Linked DNA regions of Homo sapiens. The gene in region 2 interacts genetically with the main gene of each other region. Each region holds a gene or a part of one and is shown on either strand. Other genes may lie near its edges. The genes, in order: APOOL and FIP1L1.

Evidence for each region.
Region 1: changes in FIP1L1 (region 2) and APOOL together harm fitness more than expected from each alone (negative genetic interaction), as found in Homo sapiens cells (one large-scale study listed by BioGRID).

What each region holds. Positions count from the first base shown.
Region 1 is NC_000023.11:85,052,265-85,056,099, reverse strand, and holds part of APOOL (MICOS complex subunit MIC27 precursor), read right to left. Parts: intron 1,757-3,835; coding exon 1,702-1,756; intron 274-1,701; coding exon 175-273; intron 1-174. UniProt on the Homo sapiens protein: Component of the MICOS complex, a large protein complex of the mitochondrial inner membrane that plays crucial roles in the maintenance of crista junctions, inner membrane architecture, and formation of contact sites to the outer membrane.
Region 2 is NC_000004.12:53,426,005-53,429,839, forward strand, and holds part of FIP1L1 (pre-mRNA 3'-end-processing factor FIP1), read left to right. Parts: intron 1-2,022; coding exon 2,023-2,179; intron 2,180-3,835.

The DNA.
Region 1 (3,835 bases), on a different chromosome or scaffold from region 2:
TTTGAAAACACAAAGTCCTTATAAAAGTAAGCATGCTGTAATACAGAATCTAAAAATCTTTACAGTAGCCTATCCAGATAATATTCAATAAAGCATATGAGGTTTTCTCATGACCACAAAATTCAGAAACTAATATCATGGCATTAAGAGAGAATATATTTTTTAAAACCCTACCTTTTCTCGCTGAAACCAAGCCCGCCAATCCTGAAACTGTAATAACTCCCATTTTCGGAAGAAAATCTCGAGGAGGATTCTTCAGATAGACATAAGCATCTCAAGAAATCAGTTAAAAATTAACATGAATAACTGAATTCTACTGGATATTCTATACAGTTATAATGCAGGAAGGTTAAAGAGATTTGCTAAGATAATAATGAGGTTTAAATATTCTTCAAAAGAGCTACATATAATGACAATATGAGTAGCAAGCTAAAAAACTAGATATATTTACTTGTTACAAAATAAAATTTTCCTTCCGTAGCTGATTTAATATTTCTTTTCCTAATGATACTGACGGTTATTACTATAAAGAAATGTAATGCTAGAGGGCACATCTTAATATGGGTTACTATAAGGTAAATTTCTGACTGCGTATGTATTATATCTCTATGATGAACTTCTGCCCTTATCTGTTCAAACACTGGTAGCCTCCAATAAGAAATGAAATAGATACTTTATTAAGGAGTTTTGAATAATAGTTTAAGGATATACACAGCTACTAGACCTTGCTTGCCACTACTCCCTAATAACCTCAGGACAGCCACTGCTGTTGGTTAAAGTCAATCATCAGTGAGCCTAGACAAAAAGTAGATGAAGAGTAGTTCTTGGCTTTCTATATGTTGAATTTGTTTCTGGTTCCAAAAGTACACTTTTCTATCATAGTTAATTATTTAATGGCAATCACATATTTAATCCTATTCCTCATGATTGATGAGGAATATAATTTTGAATTTATTCCTAATACATTAAATAATGACAATTCAAATACAGGTCATCAACTTCATGGAAACATTCAACATTTTAGCTCATCTTTCTATCTCCTATACATATTTATTATGACAACTGGCATAAGCCAAGAATATTACAAAGCTATATCTGTTGCCAAACACCATTAACAAGCTAAAGAGTCAAGTATAATTGCTTTTTAACCATTAGCTTAAATATTCCAGGGTTAGTGATTGCTATAACATTTCCTAGCAATTGACAGCAAAATACAATGTATTTTAACAGCAAGTAGCACTTAAACTAATTAGCAACAATGGAGACATGTTTTTAATTTATGCTTTATGATATATAATATAGACTTTGTAGTTAAAACAGACCTCAGTTTGTATCCTGGCACTACCACTTACAGTTACGTAAGCTCGATAACCTACTTAACCTTCCTAAACCTCAGTTGCCCTCATCTGTAAAATGGGAATAATTATAATACCAATACTAACATAATTGTGACAAAAATTATGTAAAATGCTAAGTACAACACCTTAGCCAATAATAACTGCTGAATAATGAATATTACTGCTTTGCTATTAATCAATAATCAACAAATAATCAATAAATTAATCAATAAATTGCTATAGAGAGTACCTTCTGAGTTGGTAAATGCATGATAATGGGTAACATACCAAGTTTATTTTTCTCACATTTAAACAATGCAATTTAAAAACACAATAAAACATTTCTAATTATCTACTCACCTACCTTTTCCAAATTGTACTGTATCCATTATCCCATTTTTCACAAAGACATAAACACCCTAAGCAAAAAAAAAGGGGGGGAAGACATCTGCATTTTTGAAGCTGTTGATAATGAGATAAAATTGCCTGCATCTCTGAGATTATATTAAAAGGTTGACTTAACATTATGCCCAAATCTAAATCCAGCTTTCCTATGTATTCACTACCAGCTTGTTTTCATTTCCTGCTTTTCATTCTATTTAACATGGATAACATTTATATCATTTTTCTCATATAAATGGATAATGTGCCTATGAAATAATCAGAGCAGAAATGATACTGAAAAAAATATTTATCATCTTATTTTATAATGACCTAGAAAAATAAATGGAATTTAAATAAAGAAGAAGGGAGGTATATTTCAGTTTAGAAGCAACATCTGATTAATAAAGTTGCAATAGCAACAACATAATGATTTGTGGAGGGAAAAAAAGAGCAAAAAGCCTAAAGCAAAGGGCTTCATCTTCCTCCCTTTTCTTAGTGTGCATTAGAATGAGAAAAAAATCTAAATTACCTCAGGACAGAAATCATCCTACATAGACCAGTGTTTATCCTGTTTTTAAATCGGAACATAAATTCTCTAGAAATCAAAACTATGTTAATACATCAGAGGAATTAAAGTTTTAAAGCAAATCTTTAACTTTACCTGTTTCTAACTGATTTATTTTAGTGCAAAAGAGTGTTAAATATATTTATTGAGTGCTAGGTATTACCTCACTTAGATAAGAAAAAAAAGGAAGTCACAAAATGATTTACTCGTGGTCATATTGTACTCTGTTGATGGAACCAGAAAACACAATCCTTCTCTGAACTAGCTGCTATGAAACCATGGGATAAAAACAAGAACAAAAGAGACTTTCAAAGCAGAGAAAACAGATATTATTATATTGGACAGGGAAGAAATAAGTTTTTGTTATAGAGATAGCTTGGTTTTGTAATTTTGTCTTACATATTTTAATGGTTATCAGAGAGATGCAGAGGTTCATCTTGGTTTAAAATTGTACAAATCAGCATAAACGCTAACTGCTATTGAACTACTTTTCTGTAGGGACTGTCTTGAGAATATTTCACCTTCAAAGTTAAAATACCTATTGACCAGTCGATTGGGAATCATTTAACCATTAAGGAAGAAAATTAGTCATCTTTCAAAAAAAATTTTTCTTAGCTCTGCTAAGGAATTCATTTTTACCACATGGGGTCAGTGCTACCTAAATTTCAAAACACTAAGCTAGCAGGAGTAGAAATTGAATTTGCTCTACATGATTCAAGCTTTAATGTGGAACGAATTTGAGTCAGACATAATTTTTAAAGAATGGATTACATTTTTAGGGGAAAATTAGGAAAAAAAATTGTTTACATTTAGGACAAAATGCACTGGAAATTGCCTTTCTTCAACCTATTTGTTTGAGCATATTAATGGAATAAAACATTCTTTTGAATCTTAAATTGGATGACAGTTACAATAGCAATTTAAAGACCTCTCAGGAACATTTTATCTCACTGAAGAAAAATTTCAGAACATTATGGAAAATTACATCTCAGGAGGCTTAAGTCTGAATCATCTAGCTATTGGCACATAGTCATAGGGGCATGATTCAGACCATAATTGGTTAAGGTATTTCCCTCTTAGATCAAACTATTAATAGTGTGTAGTACAACTAGTACCATAAGAATTGTATGACAAACACAAGTTTTCAAAAATAACATCATGTACTTATCAGATATTTGAAATATTATCTGGAATTACCAGAGTTCATTGATTTGGTATTTCACCTAAGCACAAATTATTTTTCATAAGTTCATTAGATTTCTTTTTAAAGATAATGGATAGAAACTAAAAAGAACAATGATTCACCATCAGGCTATATTTGGGGAAAAGTCGCATGGTTACTAGGTTAGAATGATGAAAACACTGGTACCAACATTAAGATACTGACACTGGAGATGCTAACACAATGATGTTTATGTGATGATAATGAAACATTAGTGTTGCATCAGCTTACTCCACCACTCTGCTGATGGATATTGCTGATTGAAGGCTAAGCATTAAAGTCACGTGTATTCTACTTTGCCCAATAGCTTACTGTAGTTAGAATGGT
Region 2 (3,835 bases):
GATGATATCAACATTATAATTTAATTTATTCAATAGATAGTCATAGTGCTATGCTGTGTTTTAGGTGATACAAAGAGATTTAAAATGTGAAGCCAGTCATTTATTATAAAGGCATTTCCAGTTAGAATTTATAATCTCTGAATCTTTTTTTAATAGGGTTTTCTTTCTTTTCCTTGGTAGAAACATAGTACAGGTTGAGTATCTCTTATCTGAAATGCTTGGGACCAGAAGTGTATCAGATTTTGAAATGTTTGGATTTTGAAATGTTCATACGTATGTAATCTTAGAGATGAGACCCAAGTCTAAACATGAAATTTATGTTTCATAAATAAGTTATTTAATTTGTTATAATGATTTGTTAATTTATGATAATCTTTTTTCCTTTGGCAACCCTGAGTAAACTGTGTAGTGGGCCTGAGTTTTGATTGTGATCCGTCACATGTGAGGTTGGGTGTGGAATTTTCCACTTGTGATAAAATGTTGATGCTCAAAATGTTTCGGATTTTAGAGCATTTCAGATTTCAGATTTTTGGATTAGGAATACTCAACTTGTATATAGGTTTACTGAATGAAAAATAAAAGACCACCAGTGATTTTACCACCTAAAGATAACCACATCTGGTACATCTCTTGATACTAAGCAAAATTGGGATACTATTATAATTATATTTCTGTGTATACTTTTTTCCCCATCTAAAATTATCATTTGTATGTTTTCATATTCTTAAAATATGATTAAAATATCTTCATGATAGCTTCATTGGATAAATATACCATGATTTATTTAATGTGACATTTCTGGAGGTGGCGTAGAGCTGCTTTGTTTTTAGGTGAAAAATTGAGGGGAGATAAATTATCAGTAAGTTGGATAATTAATGTTAGAACTTTAATAACTGAGACTTCCAGCTATTCATTTTGGCCATACTTTTTTTCATTATTTATTCCTATTTTCTGAGTCCTTTTAAAAATGTCCAGAGCACTTTATTCTTACCTTTGATAAGTTGATCATGTAAAATATTCCTTTTAGCATCTTTAAAGGCAAATCATTTCTATAGTGGAAGATGTTAGTCCATTTTTCCTTTCCCCTTACCATTAAAATGCCACGATTTCTCAAAATAAATACTTTAAGAAATAGCTTATCAGCATAAGCCCTACAAAAAACACTGCACTTAAATGTAGGAAGTGTTAATGGAAAGAGGGATTGTATGTTTAAAAGATTGCTTTAGTCAGCAAGGATCTGAGAAGTATAAATTAAATATACAACATTATGTTGGCTGTCTTTCCCAAATTTATTTACACATCCTTGGGGAGCTTATCAAAAATCCAGATTTTGAGGTGCCACTTTGCTTGTTTTATTTCAGTAGGTTTGGGGTGCTTCTTATGGTGCCTGTCCCTTAACCTGTTCACACAAAGAAGCATTTTGCAAACATTGCTTTATTTTTCAAGAATAAACCCTGGTCTTAAAGTTACAAGGCTCACATGATAAAGTTACTTACATATCTTGCTGCCTATTGCTTGCAGTCTGTTGACACATGCCTGACAGTTTCTTACTTTGCAACCTGGTGATGACAGGCCCTTGTACAGTGAATGTCTGACCTGCTGCCATGTTAATTTCTTAAGGCCAGTGTCTGTGATTAATGATTACATTGCCTTAATTGAATACTTCAACTTTGGTTGGGTGACAAAGATAATACTTGTTAAATGATCTTTATGAAGTACTTTTTTCTTGTGTGGAGTGTTTGTATTAATTACTTTTTATTAAGAAATTTTTGGTAATGATCCAGTTGTTTTTTCTTAAGATTTGAATATGCACATTTTTAAAACTGTATGTATGTGTATACTCACACAGGCGTATGTATACACATATCACACATGTAGAACTATTACTCTCCCCCCAAAAATACATATATGTGAATTAAACTACCTTTTACTTTGTTTCTTAGATTAAATGAAATTAATTTACTAAGATTAATCTTACATAATATTTATGCATCTGTTTAATTAACTGTGCTCTAATTTTAGGTCCTTTCTGAAAGATCTGCTACTGAAGTAGACAACAATTTTAGCAAACCACCTCCGTTTTTCCCTCCAGGAGCTCCTCCCACTCACCTTCCACCTCCTCCATTTCTTCCACCTCCTCCGACTGTCAGCACTGCTCCACCTCTGATTCCACCACCGGGTAAATAGTAAATAAGACATTTGACTTTGAAAGAAAAATAGCTTGCGAGTGTTTTTTAAAATTTTTGACAATTAAAATAATATCTTGATCACATTTCATTAAAAGTAATAGATATAATATCTTCAACAGATTCACACTGAAACAGATATATATATGTTTATTGCTATTTCAATATAGGAAAGAGACAATGTTCTAAAATTAAGAAGAATATACAGATACCAATCTTGTGATTCAAAAATATGATAATGATCCCCAAACTTAAGTTGCTAATAGAATATGTATAAATCCATACTCAGTTACAAACTTTACCAGTGTTAATTTGTTTTGAAAAAAACATTAAAAGATACTTTCAGGATGGGAGTAGATCAAAAAATTATATCTTGCGAAGAGATTGATTAATATTTCAGTCTGGTCTTCTTCTGTATACCGGTTTCCTTTTAGGAGACTGCTACTGGGTGCCTGGTATTTATTTCTTTTAAACAAAAGTAAATGTTGATCATATTTTTAGCTACTTTTGATTACAATTAAAAACCAGGTTAGTGGTGATAGAGAAGAAACTCACAAATAATTCCCAAATTTTATTTTTATTTGAATTTTTCATCGGGTTGCCTTTCTTACTTTGTTTTTAACCTTTATCTGCCTTAACCAAGTTTTTATGAAACTAGCAAGATTGATTGAGATAATAATTACTTCTTCCCAGGGAGAAAGCTAGTAGTAAATGATGAAAAAATAGCTGCTTGTCCTCATCAGGGCAACATGAAAGACGTATGTTAGGCTTTACTTCCTATTAATCAAATCAGTTTATACTAGAGAGCCATGTACTCTCACTCACTTTTATTTGCAAGAGAGCTGTCTTTGTTTTAAGGTGCCAGTTGTGATCCGAGTACAGAACCAAATCCAGGGTCTGAATAGTCCTTCCCTAACATATTCATCCTTGGCCTCTAAATGTCAGCCACTGCTTCTGTCTTTCATCTTCAGTGCCTTTGATTTCCTTCCACTGTCACCTCTACTCTCAAAAAGTATGAGAAAAATATGAAAAAATGACTTGTGGCTTTAGAGGGTCTGTTGTCTCAACAATAGTGGAAGGAAGAGGTTGGAATATAGGTTAGAGGTCCTTATTCCAGACAACATTAGTATTTCTAATTTCAGTGAATTTCTAGTTCCAACAAATAGATTGAGCAGAAACGACTCATTAGTTGGGATTGACTTGTGGTTCTTGTGTCTTTAATATGCTGAGTATTAACCAAATGAAAGAGGACTTAGGTGATTCAAAATGAGGACTTCTGTGATTTCTATGTGAATCCTTTGTCCTCTGAAAAAGAATTAGATAAATAAAAGGTAGAAATAATTAATGTTTCAACATATTTGATTAATGATACTAAAAAAATTATTAATGTTTGTGGTACTCTGTTGGATTCCTTTGTAATATTACTTAAACTTTACTAGGTAGTGATTTGAAATAATTTTCTTTTTTTAATTCTTAAAACTTTTTAAAAATTTTATTTTTGACAGTAATACTTGTATATGTTTATGGGGTACAATGTGATGTTTTGATTATGTCTACATTGTAGTAAATCAAGTTAATATATTCATCACCTCACATACTTAACATTTTTTTGTGGAGAGAACATTCTGAAATCTCCTAGCAGTTTTGAA